Linked DNA regions of Homo sapiens: region 2 is linked to region 1. Evidence: fine-mapped expression QTL. A gene starts in region 1. The other region holds a variant in brackets. All regions are shown on one strand. Distances are from middle to middle.

What was found. PIP is the estimated chance that this variant, and not a neighbour inherited with it, causes the effect.
Region 2: its variant is fine-mapped to the expression of SFRP1 in prefrontal cortex (ROSMAP, PIP 0.95).

What each region holds. Positions count from the first base shown.
Region 1 is chr8:41,306,275-41,315,056 of GRCh38, forward strand. SFRP1 (secreted frizzled related protein 1) reads right to left here and starts at 3,199. Exons shown (of 3, transcript NM_003012.5): 1 at 2,342-3,199. The coding sequence starts at 2,885. RefSeq lists enhancers at 1,377-2,148, 2,149-2,919, 4,839-5,366.
Region 2 is chr8:41,373,139-41,381,920 of GRCh38, forward strand. No RefSeq gene overlaps it. Among named protein-coding and RNA genes, the nearest start is that of SNORD65B, 49 kb to the right of the region's middle. The variant C/T (reference allele first, on the strand shown) is at 5,194.

The DNA.
Region 1 (8,782 bases):
ACAGAAACCAGTATGCAAAGATATGACACTGCTTTGAAAATGCATTTTAATTTTAAAGAATAAAAGCATAAAGAATAAACGAATAAAAGAGTAGTGCATGCATACTTATTCTCATTGGAAAGTGCCAGTTACGACCCCACAGCCACAAGCCATAAGGTTATGAGGATCAGTAGTCTGGTTTGTCTTGACCTGCCCTCTACACACCTACACACACACACACACACACACACACGCCCCACCCTCCCCTCCACAGGGACCTCGCAGGAAATCACGTGGGGCTCCCTTACACCAGGGATTGCAGTCCTGGGGAGGGTGGTGTGCCATCTCAGGGCAGAGCCCCCCACCAAAACCACTGAGGGGAAAACCAGTCCCAAGCCCCACTCCCGACCGGCCCTCTCCCCACTTTTCTCTTTGCTCCTCAAAGACCTGTCTTGGGAGGGTGACTACCTGAGCGCTGCTGGGAGGAGTGGAGGTGAGTGAGGACGGTTCCAAGCCAGGCTGAGAAGGGCGCCGACCAGTGGAACTGCAGCCAAGGGGCAAAAGGTGTCCGGAAGACAGCGATTATGGGGTTTCCCCATCCCATCACAGCCTTTTGGGGGCTGGGGTGAGGGATTCTTTCCTCTCTTCTTCAGGCAACCCGTCCAATCCCCCCATGTTCCCTGTGGACTGCAGCACCTTTTCCGCAGCCGAGCCCCCTAAGGTGTCCACTCATGTCTGCAGACGGTCCCAGAAAGAGACCATCGGAAGCCATTGGGAATGGACTCCAGGTCAGGGCTGGGCACAGCCTCACAGGGCAGGGCTGGGCTAATCCCCGCTGGCTGAGGAAGGGGAGAAGGAAATTCCCGCAGGCTGCAGGGGATGGGTGCAAGCCAACAGAACACAAGGCGCTTTGTTTGCTCCAGGTAACTGCTCAGTTCTCGCTCACAAAGTGCAGATGCATCCGCTACCCTCACTCCACTCCCAACACCAGAGTTGACTCTGAGAGCAGCGGTGCCCAGACCTGGCCACTGCGGGCAATCAGTGCCGTTCCCATCCAGCCATCCAACGACAGTCACTGTGGACCCATCTCCACCCTCCCTAGAATAAGCAAAAGCATCTAAAATTTGGGGTATCCCTTTCCCCCACCTGCCCAAATCCTCACTCTGAGGAGCCAGGTGACTGCACTCCCCTCTTTTAGCATCAATAACAGAGGTTAAAGACACTTTAAGGTGAGCTAAGTGTAGGCAGTCTTTCTCCCCCACCCTAAAGGCCCTCCTCAAAAAGCCCTCAGGAAGCCTGCGTCTGTGCTAAGCGCAGCTGGGGTACAGCTCCCCAATCCCTGACCCTCTCCACACCTCAGAGCCTAAACTTCGCTTCTAAAGAATTCTGGGTTGAATTTACTTCTATAGAAGTCAGGTCTGTGATGTGTATATTTTATCTTTATATCTATTTCATTTTATTTGACTTCCCAGGATTTTTTTTTCTTCCCCCTCAAGAATTGCTCTTTAAACATAAGGGGGTTTTGAGAGGAACCTCGGGCCGGTCCCTCAGGCTGTTAGGAAAGTCTGCATTTTGCAGAGCTGCTCTCCCCGGGAGGAGATGAACAATGAGCTAATTACATTTTTATCTTTCTAATGAGCTGAGGATTTGTGTAAATGAGAAAAGCAGGGGGTACGCTAGAGGGAGGGAGAAAAGACTTTCCACCCCCAGCCCTCCGAGGGCAGAGCTGGTACCTGGAAGGGGTGGAGAAACAGAAGTCCCCACGGTTCCTAAACTTTCTCAGCCAGTTTTGCAGCAATCCCAAGGCTACTTGACTGAATGACCAGTGAAGGAAAGGGCTTGGTTTTATTTTTTAAATCTTTGTCGAACCTATGAAAATAAACAAAAGCTGCTCCAAGCATTCTCTCGGCCTTTCTGAACTTTCTACGCTTTGGGTTTTTGTTTTTTCCTCCCGTCTCAGAGGTTAAAAACTTCGATAGGGACTCGGAGTCCTCCTAGAGGAGAGGGAAGCTCCCCTGTTATTTAAAGCGCAAGGCTTTGTTTCAGGTATGGGAAAGGCGAAGTTGGATCCCAGGAAGAGCGGCTCCGGGGACCACAGCGAGTCCCTGCGAGGCCAAGGCGCAGAGCTGCCGCTCCCGGGCCAGCCCCGCCGTGCACCTGGGTCGCGAGGGGCGCTGAGCGATACCTGGGACAGACCAGACGCGCTTAGGAATCACGTGCACAGCATGCGAGCAACCTCGGGCCCTCAGTCCCCAGCACCGGGACCCAGCGGCGGGCGGGCGTAGGGTGGCGCGGGTTCTCCTGCAGCTCCGGCCGGGGGATGGAGGGGGCGGCTCGCGCACGTGGGAGGAGGCAGCCTTACCTTGGGGCTTGGAGGCTTCGGTGGCATTGGGCGGCGTCATGGCGATGCAGACGTCCCCCTCGGGGAACTTGTCACACTTAAGCATCTCGGGCCAGTAGAAGCCGAAGAACTGCATGACCGGCTCGCACGAGTCGCGCACGGCCTCGCAGAGCCAGCGACACGGGTAGATGGGCCGGTCCAGGCAGACGGGCGCGAAGAGCGAGCAGAGGAAGACCTGGGTGCCGGCGTGGCAGTTCTTGTTGAGCAGGGGCACCCAGCTGCTGGCCTGCTGCTTCACCTCCGCCATGGTCTCGTGCTCCAGCAGGTTGGGCAGCACCATCTTCTTGTAGCCCACGTTGTGGCACAGCCGCAGGTCCGCGGGGATGTCCACGCACTGAGGTGGCTTGGTGTAGAAGCGCCCGCTCTGGTACGGGCCGATGTCCGACTGGAAGCTCACGTAGTCGTACTCGCTGGCCGAGCCCACGGCCAGAAGCGCCGCGCCCAGCGCCAGCAGCACGCCCAGGGCTGCCCCGCGGCGGCCCCCCTCGCTGCGCCCGATGCCCATGCCGGCTCTGCGCCCTGTTCTCCGCGACGTCGGGGCTGCCTCCGCCGCCTCCCCGCGCGCGTCCTGCCGCAAACTTCCAGGGACCTCCGGGGACAAAAGGCGCAGTCCCCAGCGTTGCCCGGCTCCGCGGCCGCAAGCTGCTGCCCGGTCCCCCCGGCCAGTGGCGGCCCTCGGCCTGCGGTCGGAGGCGGCGCGGGCGGGGAGGCGGCGCTGCGGGCTGGGTGCGCCCCGGCTCCCGGAGGTGCGGCGAGCAGGAAGGCGCGGGGCGGCGGGCGCGCGGCACTGACTCCGGAGGCTGCAGGGCTGGAGTGCGCGGGGCTCCTACGGCCGAGCCCTCGGAGCCGCCCCGCGCAGCCAATCAGCTCCCGGCGGGGCGAGCCGCACTCGTTACCACGTCCGTCACCGGCGCGGGAGCCAATCGCCTCCCTCGCGAGCGGGTTCGGTTTACTAGAACCAGACGCGGCTCAACACCCCTTAAAAAACAAAACCAAAAATACATAAATAAAAGGGGGAGGAGGAAAGAGACAAGGGGAGAAAAAGAAGGGGAATGGATCACGGCGTGGGGTGGAGAGAGACCAGGGCGGACGCTGTAATTAACTCGCATTGGCTTGCAGAGAAGCGGGGAGCCTGGATCATACTTGCAAACCCATGAAATTATGAAGACTTTTTTTTTTTGAGACAGTTTCGCTCTTGTTGCCTAAGCTGGAGTGCAATGGCGCTATCTCCGCTGACTGCAACCTCCGCCTCCCGGGTTCAAGCGATTCTCCTGCCTCAGCCTCCCGAGTAGCTGGGATTACAGCCGCGTGCCACCATGCCCCCGCTAATTTTTTGTATTTTTAGTAGAGACGGGGTTTCACCATGTTAGCCAGGCTGGTCTCGAACTCCTGACCTCAGGTGATGCTCCTGCCTTGGCCTCCCAAACTTTTTTTTTCTTTTTCTTTACACTGCTTCCTAATTTCAACCAACAGCCCTTTAGACTAGCGGCTCCTCTCCTCGGTTCTCTAGCTGCGGTGCAGACAGGTGGTTTCCCAACTAACAGGGGTTCAGGAAGGCTGAAGCGAGGGAGGTCTGCTTGTAAATACCCAGTGGGCCTGGCTGGGCTCCCTGGAAGGCGAGGCGAAGGCGCAGTTGGAGCTGTTTGCTGTGAGCAGCACCTCTCCAGGTGGGGCCGCCCATGGTGGCCCTCAACACTGGGGCAGTGGGTGGACTTTGCCCGGTGTGGCGGCAGGAAGAGCTGCTAGCAACGGTATTAGCTCTGGGAGGACACTTTTTTAAATATATAATATATATTTAAATAGAAAAACCCTACTCAAGTCCTAGCCCGGGCGACAGCACATCTGTGTGTTTGTGGTGTGGAAAGCCAAAACATTAAAAACACATGTGCACTTATCAGCGTGGCTGGTGTAAATACCAAGTCCATCACTCAGGCACACATGCTAAGGTTAGACCCAGTCCAGGAACTTCAAGTTAAAATCAAGGGTCCCCACTAGGGCAGACGCCAAGAGGACGGTATCAGCACAACAGCTCGGCCCCCAGGAACAGAAGTCTCTCTGCCACCTTCTACCTCGAATTCCTGAGAATTCTTCGTAGGTTTCAAACATTCCCCTGAGAGGGAGGGTTAAGCTCTGGAGAGCTGGGAGTGAGACCCGGACTATCCCGGGACAGAAGACCACAGCAAATAGTTCATGAAGTTCCTGGAGTCTCCATATCTTCTGTCCCTAAGTGCGGGTGGAGAGAGGCTGATATATTCATAGCCCAGTCTGAGCGCACACCCCATGTGGCAAAGGGGTCACAGATCTTAGCGCTCCACAGAGACACTATAGGGCGCGCTGCCTTGCCCGCCAGCTTGTTTGTAAAGCTCTAGGGAGCTTGCTTTGGACTCTGCAAACCTAATTTCTTGATGGACAGATTCCAAGTGAAATGACTAGAGTTTGTGAAGAAGCAGGGCTGTTTTCTTAAAGCATTCGTGCCCGTACAGACACGGTGATTCCACGGTGCACACAGGAGGCTTCTGCAGATGGATGACTTCTCTGTCATTTCGTGGCCAATGGAAGATGCCTTGACACTCAAAAGGTGACATGGAGGCTGGAAGGAAAACACAGAGAAGAGAGAGCAAGATCGGGATGGCCAAGGGTTAATCCCAAGACAATTGGTGAGGCCGGCCTGTGGAGCTGAGGAAGACATTCCTCACAGAGAATAAGACCGCAGGAGACCCGGCAACTGTGTCTCAATTCAAGGGGCATTTAGAGAAAAATGCTGTTTGGTAGGGGGTCTTTTTGTCTCCTAGGGCCAGGCCCTCCACCTCAAGCCAAATGCGTCTGTTTGCTCACTGCAAAGATGGATGTTTGCAGATAACATCCTCTCACCTCTGAACCCAGGCTTAGCTGACCGCTCACTCACGTTTTCAGTTTTCCCGAATGGCAGGAGGACTTGTGTCTGTCCACGGTTAAATGCTGGAAATTCGTCCAGGTGACTGCCCTGGAAGTCCCAAGTCAGGAGTAAATCTCACAAATCCATTCAGGGGAAGACCTCGCCTATGTCTGGTCACTCCGAGTAGACTTTGATCACCTCCAGTCACCACCTCCCCCACTCACCCCTAGTGGTCCTACTGCTTTACTGACCCCTGCTGGGAACACAGTTGTCTCTCCGTGGAACAGGGAGTGATGGGAGAAGACCCCAAATCCTAAATCCAGTGCACTCCTGACTCCTCCCAGACCCAGCTGGAAAGGAAGGACCCTAAGACCTCAGTCCCACCGAGAGACTTTAATCCATTCCTGGGATGTGGGAGAGGGACCACCCGCCCCCCGTCCTCTCGGGAAATTCACATGCTGCATAACAGCACCAGGCAGAACAGCCTGAAGACTTTGTATTGCAGAGGTACATACAGTACTTTTGTCCTTTTACTTATTGTCAACTCTTTGCACTTCAAAATCCAGTCCCCCTTTTCCTAATGGCAAGTGTGTGTGTGTTTGTGTGTGCACGCACTCCTGTGTGTACAGCAGAAGGTTCTAGAACAAAGGCCCTTTAAACATGCAACTGACATGACAGAGCTCCCAGATATGAGGGTTCCTGAGTATGAGAACTGTGGGCCAGGAGACATATCCTCCCTCCTTTTTGAATGGCTTAAATAAACAGAGGCAAAATGCAGCTTTAACTTATGTTTCTCATTTCCCAGAAGTTCTGCTTTTCCCACACTGCTAGATGCCCATGCATGAAGCCTGAAAGTTCGTCCTCTGTTGCTTCAAAACACCAGCTTCAGGAGGCATTCTCAGTTCTTCAGCCTCCACAGAGGGTCACAGAGGGCCCCCCCAGGTGCCTCCCAGGTGGCCTCTTCCCACACGCAGAGCTTTTTCCTGGCTTCTCCTGGAAAAACTGGGAGGGGAGCCTTCCCAGCCACAGCTCCCATTGTGTTCCACTATCATATCATCAGTGATGTCTGCCATCCTCTCCAAAGATACATTCAGCTCGCTCTCCCTCAGCCAGCAGCACTAGGGAGGGAGCTCCCGCCTGAAGCTGGGTATCTGTGGGTCAGGGGCAATGCCAAGGAAAGCATGCTGGCCCACAGTCAGTGGACACAGGCTACAGCCTCAGCTCTGCTCCTAACTGGCTGGGCGACTCATGGGAATCGCACTTCCTCTCTCTGGTCTTAGTGTTCTCATCTGTGAAACAGAGCTATTAATGCCTGCCCGGCTGCCCTGCTAGCTCAGAAGTGTGAATTCTCAGCATGTAGGGTCACTCGAGGCACATCCTTAGACTTCCAGGCAAGTCTGAAGGGGCCAAAGTGGTATTCGTTGTCAGATGCCTTGAAACCTGGTCATGCTCTTACTTGGACAAGCTTCTTCTGCATTCTGCCTCTGTAGATGTGTAATCCTGATCCTTTCTAACTCTTTAAAGAACTGGCCTGACCTGCTAACTGAAGTCTGGGAATGTCTGGGAAGCATCTTAAAAATTTGGAGTTGAAGGCAAATTCCAGCCCCATCTCTTCATCTCTTCTTAGAGTAAGCACCCCTACCTCTTCATCTTTTTTTTTTTTTTTTTTTTGATACAGAGTCTCACTCTGTTCCCCAGGCTGGAGCGCAGTGGCAGGACCTTGGCTCACTGCAGCCTTGACCTCCTGGGCTCAGGCAATCCTGCCACCTCAGCCTCCCAAGTAGCTGGGACTCCAGATGCAGGCCACCACACCTAGCTTTTTTTTTTTTTTTTTTTTTTTTTTTTTTTTGAGCAATGGGATTTTGCTATGTTATCCAGGCTGGTTTTGAACTCCTAGCCCCAAGCAATCCTCCTGTCTCAGCCTCCCAGAGTGTTGGGATTACAGGGGTGAGCCACCGCACCCAGTCCTCTGCACCATTCTTGACAGAAGCTAACGGAGCATCCCTTTTATTTGTTTGGGATATAGTCACCAAGTTCAGACAATCCACTAGAATGTTCTTCCTTCCTTGAAGGGAAACTCTGCTCCCTGTAATTTCTTACTAGGCCATCCTAGGATCAGTTCCTATCGTAAGCAGCCAGGAAGACACCCTCAGCGGAGCCCCAAACTGGGAGGCCAAGGTCACCGTCCCCGCCCCTCCACTCAGACAGTCACACCTGCCCACTCTCCAGGCGAGGTTCTGTCAAACTGGGCTTGACAATTTTTGTTCATTTATTACTACATTAATTAATTTATAATTTATATTATAAATATATTCATGCCTATAAATATAATTTTTATATAAATAAATGAAGACTTGTATACCACCTCTTAGAAAGAAGAGAACTAAAAATAAAAGGCATATTTTAAGATGACTTTTTAAATAGAAATAAAAATATCAAATGGACTATTTCTCTGATTAAAATTCTCACACACTCTTTGTCCACAGGAAAAAGCCCAACCTCCAGGATAGTATCAAGACTCAGCCCTGACCCCCATGACCTCTCCAGCTTCACCTCCCCAGCACCCCCCACCAGCCTAGTTTCCAGTCTCCAGAAGTACTTGCACTTTCCCACCCAATGGCTTCTCGCTTGCCTCTCATCCTGGGCTCATGCTGTGTGCACATGCTGTTTTCTCTATCTGTAATGCCTTTCACTACTTTTGTACAAACTACTACTCATAGGGTTTCCAGATTTACAAATAAAAATACAGGACACCCATGGCCAGGCACAGTGGCTCATACCTGTAATCCCAGCACTTAGGGAAAGTAAGGCAGGAGGATTGCTTGAGGCCAGGAGTTTGAGACCAGCCCGGGCAACATAGCAAGACCCTGTTTCTACACATAATAATAATTTTTAAGAATTATCTGATTAGGCACAATTTTAAGAATTTTAAGAATTAGCTGATTAAGAATTAGCTACAGGCACAGTGGTACGTGCCGGTAGTCCCAGCTACTTAGGAGGCTGAGGCAGGAGGATCGCTTGAGCCCAGGAGTTGGAGGCTGCAGTGAGCTATGATCATACCACTGCACTCCAGCTTGGGTGACAGAATGGCACCCTGTCTTTAAAAATAAAAATTAAATTTAAATATTAAAAAATAGAACATCCAGTAAAATTTGAATTCCAGATCAACAAGAAAAAACTTATTAAGTGTGTCTCAAATATTACCTGAGACATACATATACTATAAATTATTCATTGTTGAACTGAAATTCAGTTTACTGGGCATCATATATTTTATCTGGCAAATCCACCCACTTATCCTAACAATGTTGTCTCCTCCAGGAAGCCAGGCCTGACCTCCTCCATCCCTAGTCAGATTCACCCACTCTGTGCCTGCAGACACTCCGTGTACATTTATAACTGGTCCCTTCCATGTACATCGTACAGTGCAGTGAGCTCTTAGAGGCCAGGACCTTGTCTTATTTTGTCTTACCCATTCCACATCTCCAGCATCTAGTACAATGCCATGCATATACTGAGTGCTCAAT
Region 2 (8,782 bases), 67 kb after region 1:
TTTTTAAAAATCATAGAAATTTTAAGATGAGCTCTAAAATAACTTATGGAATAAAGATGAAATCAAAATGGAAATGTTAAATATTAGAGCTGAATAACAGTACAGGTGGTAAATATGAAAACTAGAGGGATATAGTTACATTGATATTAGAGTTTAAATTCGAGACTTAAAGTCACTCAGCAAAAAGTTTTTTAAAGATTAAAAAAAACTAAATACTCAACTCGCAAAGCAAGACAGACTCATCATAAATCCAAAAAAAAATGGAAGCAGGAAAATAATAAAGTTAAGAGCCAAAATTAATTAAATACAACACAAAAAATTATACTGTGTATTAATAATACTAAAAGATGGGCTTTATAAACATAGTAGGATAAACCTGCAGTAAGACTGATCAAGAATAAAAGGCACAAATCAACATATTTAAAGCAAAAAGAGAGACATGATCTCCAAAGAGTAGAGTTTTAAAAAATGTTTAGATAAGAATATGAATTAAATGCTAGTAGATTTGAAAATGTAGATAAATTAGATAAATTATGAATTATCAAAATTGGCTTAAGAAGAAATAGAAAGCCTCAATAAACAAACAAACAAAAAGCCTAAAGAAATTCAATTCCTAATCAAAGCCTTTCCCTCCAAGAGACACAAGACCAGAGTGTTTTAAGGGTAAGTCTTCCAAAATATTCAAGTCATTCTTGATAATTCCAATGGATGCTGAAAAGACATTTGATAAAAGTCAATACCTGTTCACATTAAAAAAAAAAATACGGCCAGGCTCAGTGGCTCACACCTATAATCCTAGTGCTTTGGGAGGCTGAGTTGGAAGCCTCACTCGAGGCCAGAAGTTTGAGACCAGCCTGGACAACATAGAGAGACCCATCTCTACAAAAAAAAATTTTTTTTAATTAGCCAGGTGTGGTGGCCTGGAGTCCCTGCTACTTCGGAGGCCGAGGCAGGAGGATCCCTTGACCCCAGGAGTTAAGGCTGCAATGAACACCACTGTGCTCCAGCCTGGGCAACAGAGCAAGACCTTGTCCCTAAAAAATAGATGAATAAATAAATAAATAAATAAATACATAAATAAATAAATAAATAAAATAAAAATTTTTTAAGTTTAGGAAATTGGGAATAGGAGATGACACCCTTAATCTTATAACCTATATTATTAAACATGATACAAAATCTATTAAACATCATAATTAACAGTATAACTTGAGAATCATTAACAATACAGTAAAAAATGAAATAAAGACACCTACCATCACTGCTTATGTTCAACATTAAACAGTGGGTTCCGGCTAATACCGTAAGATAGAAGAATAAAGCAAATAATAATAGAAAAAGATGACCTAAAACTGTCCTTATCCCCAGGTGGTGTGATTTTCAACATAGAGAACAAACCTAAGCATTCTACAAACTATTATAACTGATAAGTGATATTAGCAACATTTAAAAATTAATAATTTACATCTCCACTGGCAATTACCAATTAGAGATTATGATAGAATATGATAGAAAAATAATTCCATTTATAATAGCAAGGAAAACTATAAAGAATCTATGTATAAATGTAACAAAAATGTTTAAGACACATTTGTTGGAAAAATCACAAAGTATTCATAATATACATAATGAATAAAACACATTAATAAAGAAATAAGTACAAAGTCCATGGATAAAAAGAATATTATTAAGACACTAATTCAACCCAAATAAAATCTTATAAATTCAATACAACTCCGATCAAAATGTTAACACAATTTTTTATGAATTTGATAAGTAGATCTAGAATTCATATGAAGAGCTAAGAATCACAAAAAGGCCAGGCATGGTGGCTAACGCCTGTAATCCCAACTTTGGGAGGCTGAGGTGGATGGATCACCTGAGATCGGGGGTTTACCAGCCTGGCCAACATGGTGAAACTCCATCTCTACTAAAAATATAACAATTAGCTGGGCATGGTGGCAGGTGCCACCTGGGCATGAGGCAGGAGAATGGCTTGAATCCAGTAGGCACAGGTTGCAGTAAGCCGAGACCGTGCCACCACTGCACTCCAGCCTGGGCAACAGGAGCAAAACTCCATCTCAAAATAAAAGAATCACAAATAAATCAATTTAAAGCCATGATTTAAATAGAGTAATTTTGCCTTAGGAATTACACACAGACACACAGCTACACACACACACATACACACAACACACACACATTCTGTCTCATGAGTCTGAAAACAGACCCATGCATACATGAAAACTTGATATATGACAGAGGTGGAATTATACATGCGTGGAAAACATAATCATTTAACAAAGGGTGACACCAATCTGGAAAAGAGAAACCACTTAATTCCCTACCAAAAAAAAAAAAATCATTTCCAAGTAAATTAAGGCCTACATGTGAAAAGTAACGTTTTTAGAAGGCAATATAGAAAATCTCTATGACTTTGTAGAAAACAAATCATAAGGAAAAGATTTGACCTCAGTAGAAGTTAAAATTTAATATCTTTTATGCATAAACCTATAAAGGGTTAAAATTAGCATTTATACATGGCTTTCAATTTAAGGAAAAAATGACAGTAGAGAAATGGCTAAAACACATGAGCAGGCAATATACAGAAGAGGAAAGGGAAATGATCAATAGACAGAAAAGAAATGCTCAATCTCACCAGTAACCCCAGAATTCTCAACTACAAGAGGGAGAAACGATCTCTTGTTCATCATATTGCAAAAGTTTGAAAACAAGTGTTGGTAAGAATTAGGGGGCGATCGGAACTCTCACTTAGCATGAGAAAGCAATTTGGAAATAGTAAGGGTAAAAATGTAGGTCTTCAACCCAGAATTTCTACTATTAAATATATATTCTACGAAAACTCTCACACACATATTGTACACAGAAACATGTACAAAAATGTTAATTGCAACAATGTTTATCACAGCAAAACACTGGGGAAAAAAATCCATCCACCAAATGAGTGGAAAAATAAATTATGACATATTTATTGAATTCATGTCTATTATACAGCAGTCAAATTAACTGGAGCTACATGTATCAACATTAGTAATTCTCAAAAGCATGCTGATTACCAAGAAAGGAAGTGGCAATATAACTACAAGATAATATGTACAGAAAATTTGAGAACATGCAAAACAATACATATTATTGGCACATTTGTATGTTATGATAGAATCAAAAGATGCTTGGAAGTTATGAACACAAAATTCAGTGTTCATCTGGGAAAGGAGAAAATGAAATCACAGAAGAATACACTGGAGGCTTCAAATCTATCAGAAGTGGTTTTAATGCTTTTTAAAACCTGAAGTAAACATAATAAAATGTTATGATCCGATTAAGCTGGGTGTTGGATAAATGGATGTTTGTATAATCTGTATTTTCACAAGAATCACTTCAGTCTGGGTATCATTAAGCTGCTATCAAACTGTGGCAGGACATACAGAAAGATCTGCCAATAATTCAAAATAGAATCAGGCAGGAAATAGATTTAAACATGCTGTGAAGTAAACTGGGCAGGAGGCTACAGATTTCATATCAGGCCAGAGGGTTAAGTAATGGTATATTTTAAACTCAAAAGAGATAAATCCTTTCCAAAAGATAAGGACTTGGGATCCCTGTTTTTAATGACTATTAAAAACTAAGTCAATGTTTCGCTGAGCGGCTCCAGGAGGGTCAGATCTAGTGTAGGACCCAAAATCTCTGGCCCATAATTTTTTTTCTGAAATCTCTCCCCCAATTTGATTGGGGTAATAACTCTTATTGGCTTGGGATGGTAAAATTGTTTTCCTCATGGGTGTCTTTTAACCCTAGGACATTTTTGAATTAGATACAAAGATGAAGAAATAAATCAAACTACATATATATTAATACTTCTGTGTTACATTCAGGAATCTGTTTGGATAATCATTGGAACAACGTGTGTATATTTGGTATCTAAAGTGACTGTAAAGAGGGCTGGGCACGGTGGCTCAGGCCCATAATCCCAGCACTTTGGGAGGCTGAGGAGGCCAGGTCACTTAAGCCTAGGAGTTTGAGACCAATCTGGGCAACATAGAGAGACCCCCCACATCTCTATAAAAAAATACAAAAATTAGCTGGGTATGGTGGTGTACACCTGTGGCCCCAGGTAGGGAGGCTGAGGCAGGAAGTTTGCCTGAGCCTGGGAGGCAGAGGTTGCAGTGAGCCGAGACTGCAGCACTGCACCCCAGCATGGGCAATAGAGCCCGATCTTGTCTCCAGAAAAAAGAAAGAAAGAAAGAAAGTGACTGTAGAGATTTTGGGGGGACATAAGATAATCATAAAGATTAGAGCTGTGATTCCATTTTACAACATGCATTTGAGTAATTGATTTTATCATTGCAAGTTGAAAGGTATGAGACTTTAGCTAATTTTTTAAACTACACTGAATTTTTTTAAAGATTTGTCATATTTATCAATTTGTTTTTATCACACTTAATAGAATTGTTCAAGAACTTGGGAAGGCTATTCTTGTTAGGGGCATTTGAAGTGCTGAAAAGAAAAGCAATTATGCTAAACTTATAAATACAGTTTTAATGATTGAAGGAATTTAATTAACTGAGTTGTAAACAGAACTGATTGTTTAAGGGGATATGTTCTATTCACCTTGCATTAATTCAACTTTAATCAAAGGAAAATTTAAAATTTTTGCATGTATTTTACCAATTTTATGAATAGGTTTGTAACTTGAACTTAAAAGATTAAGAAAAATCTATTTTTAATTTATAATTTTAATAAGTCAAGTACTAATGTTAACATCCTGAAACTAATCTTCTGTGTACAAATGACTCCCTTTAGGAACACTCAAAAGCTCCAGTTATATTCTGTAATTGTGGTCATAATAAAAAAAAATTCCCTCTCAATTCTTTTCTTAAATAAAAGAAACATTCAGGTTATCTGTAAATAAAACTATAAAATTTATTGGAAAAGTTTTAAAATCTTGAATATCAAGAGAAATAGCATCCTAGCTGAAAAATTCAGTATGAAACCTACTGAGTTTTTTGTGTTTTGTTTTGTTTTGTTTTGTTTTTTGAGATGGAGTCTCACTCTGTCACCCAGGCTGGAGTGCAGTGGCATGATCTTGGCTCACTGCAACCTCCGCCTCCCGGGTTCAAGCGATTCTCCTGCCTCAGCCTCCTGAGTAGCTGGGACTATAGGCGCCTGCCACCA[C/T]GCCCAGCTAATTTTTGTATTTTTAGTAGAGACAGGGTTTCACCCTGTTGGCCAGGTTGGTCTCAAACTCCTGACCTCAAGTGATCCGCCCGCCTCAGCCTCCCAAAGTGCTGGGATTACAGGCATGAGCCACCACGCCTGGCCAAGATTTTTTTTTTTAATAGCAAAATTATCCTAAGGTACATCCCAAAAATAAAGAATCACTAATTACTAAAAATGTTTGAAAAAGAAAATTAGTAAGAAGTGACTTGCTCTGCCAAATATTAACAAGTATCATAAATCTCTATTACTCTAAAAGGATGGTTCAAAATAAAAAAAATAAAAAATAAATAAAATAAAAGGATGGTACTGGAACCATAATAGGTAAGCAAACCAAAGAACCTAAAAGAAAGCTCAGAAATAAATCTGTGTGTATCTGTTACTGAAAGCACCTCTATTTGTAAATATTGAATAAAACAAAGGTATATTTTGGGATGCTTCCTTCCTACTCATAATATTTCCTTTCAGGTGGAGGAGGCTGCACTGCAGCCACCTCTCCAGCCTCTTCTCACCCCTTACTCACTCCTCTCTGGAGAGAGCAAGTGACATGGATCTAAAAGTTTTGGGGGAAGATGCAATGTGCTTATCCTAACTCTGCTCTTCCCTTACTTGGGAGGGAGCTGCACATGGGGAGCAGGCACTGTTCCCATTCCAGGGGCAGGCTCCCCTTGCACACCAGGAGGGCTGCCTGGTCTCATTTTCCACTCATGGAGTGGGTTTATCTGCCAGACGCAGCGCCCATCAGCAGAAGCTTTGGGCATTCTCCAGTTTAACCTTTATCAGTAATAAAAGACTGGCCTTCATCATCCCAATTTCGTCAGGACCCATGTGAAGAAGAAAAATGCCTTCCAGAAACCCTCATGGTAGGTGCATGGGCCAAAAGCATTTAGGGAAGAAATCTTGTTCCCTTTCGACACTTTGAGTCCAACCAGAAAGGCAACTAAAACTAAGTATGCTTGATTGTTTTCCCCAACTTACTAAATAAAAAAGTCACTCAACCTCTTCAGGAGTGGAGTGAGGAAGTGGATGGAGAGAAATCAGAAGTACCATACCAATGGCGTTCCTTCACCTGGGAGGAAATATCTAGAATAGATAATAGCAATTTCTCTATCATGCAATATTCCATCTTAATGAGAAGAGGATTTTTTTTTTTTTTTTGAGACAGAGTCTGGCTTTGTCGCCCAGGCTAGAGTGCAGTGGCACGATCTTGACTCACTGTACCCTCCACCTCCCGGGTTCAAGTGATTCTCCTGTCTCAGCCTCCTGAGTAGCTGGGATTACAGGCACCTGCCACCGCGCCTAGCTAAATTTTGTATTTTTAGTAGAGACAGTGTTTCACCATGTTGGCCAGGCTGGTCTCAAACTCCTGACCTCAGATGATCTGCCCACCTCGGTCTCCCAAAGTTCTGGGATTACAGGCGTGAGCCACTGCGCCCAGCCCAGAGGATGTTTTAATCAATAAAATAGTGCCAGGGAAATTGGTTAACTAATTGATAAAAACAAAGTTTAATTCCTACCTCACATCATACATTCAAGTAAGTTACACATGGATTAAAGTATTAAATGGGAGGCAACTGTGCCACAAATTGATAAACATATAAGTAAATATTTACCAAACCCAGGGTTAGAAAAGGAATTTCTAAGCATTAAGGCAAAAGAAAGACAAATTAAAAGACTAAGAATTATTATATCAAAATGTAAAACTTTTGTATGTAAAGAAATAACATTTATCAAATGAAAAATCAAGTTACTGGGTTCCATGAGGACCCAGCAGAGACTGAAGGAGAGAAAGAGTAGAAGATCAGAAGGAGCTCTCAGGGAGTAGGATCTAGGGAGGATGCTAATTTCACTTCTGAAGTCATAGAGAAGATAAGACAACTATCACAAAACCTGTAGTACTACTGTTCAAATCTGCTTCCAGTAGCAGTGGAGTGAAGTCATTGGTGAATCCTTTCCTAGACAATAACGAAATGCAGACAAATTCTTTTTTTTTTTTTTTGACAGAGTCTCACTCTTTATCACCCAGGCTGGAGTTCAGTGGCATGACCTCGGCTCACTGCAACCTCCACCCCCCAGGTTCAAGCAATTCTCCTGCCTCAGCCTCTCCAGTAGCTGGGATTACAGGCACCCACCACTATGCACGGCTAATTTTTGTATTTTTAGTGGAGACGGGATTTCACCACATTGGCCAGGCTGGTCTCAAATTCCTGACCTCAAGTGATCCACCTGCCTTGGCCTCCCAAAGTGCTGGAATTACAGGTGTGAGCCAACACACCTGGCCAACAAATTCTTTTTTTAATAACCAACTATTTGAAGAAACTAGTAGATAGAAGTCAGAGAACAGCCTACCCTTAAATGACTGTAACTGTTTCCAGTAAAAATTGCAAGTTTATGGTTGTTGATTTTGTGGGGTGGGGAGTTGTTTGCTTGTTTTCTGCCTCAGAACATTCCCTAACCCTCACAGCTATAGCAGAAGAAATAAATCAACCTTACCAATTCAAGATGGCAGAGGAAGGAGTGCAAGAGTGGTAGAAGAGGAAATTTAGGGTTAAAATCCTGGAAGTGAGAAAATTGAAGAAAGTGTGAGACCAAAAATCTGAGTGCATACTATACCCCAAAGCCCTGGATGATGACAAAACTATGGATGGATGTGGAGGAAGGGCAGGGTACCTAAGAAAAGCAAACAGAAACCAGAAAGGCATTTACCCTTGAAAGACAGAGCTGTATTAGATGAGTTTGAGAGTTTTCTCCTTTTTTGACAGTGGAATCCCCAACCAGCAAACAGGTAAGCAACAAAAAGCTTAAGCCTTACTGGATTGAAGTATTGAAGGACTGGGCTCTGGAATGACAGAAGAGTCAAGAATTTAGAAAACTCTAGAAGCAAAGAAGCTGTAGAGAGTGTATGCCCCTAAATCTGAGTATAAACTCTGCACAAATCCTTGGCTAACCATCAAAGCATGCAGACACCAAGAAGACACAAATACATACATACATACACACACACACACACACACACAAACACACACACACACGGAACTGAAAGAACTGAGAAGATATACAAGTTACTGCACACTGCAGAGGAAGCAGAGTTTGCAGTTTGAGTCAAGGCAATTAACTATGTACTACAACAAAACAATTCTCAGAAGAATATAACAGAATCTATAATCACTAGTACATTTATTCTGCACTACTCAGTCTTTGACCAAAAATTACCAGGTATGCAAAGAAATAGGAAAATAAAGTAGTCAATAGAAATTGACTATCAGTGGCCCAAGATATTGGATTTGGCAAAGATTTCAAATCATTTTTATAAATATGTTTAAAGTATTAAAAGATGTGTGAATGATTAAATGAAAATATAGTCCTAATGAGTGGACTGAGTGTCATCAGATAAATGGAAATCATTAAGAATTCTAGAGCTGAAAAGTATAATAACTAATATAAAAAATGTACTAAATGCATTCAACAGTAGAATGAAGATGGAGGAAAAATCAGTGAATTTCCAAATAAATCAGTAGAAATTATCCAATTCAAATAGTAGATATAAAAA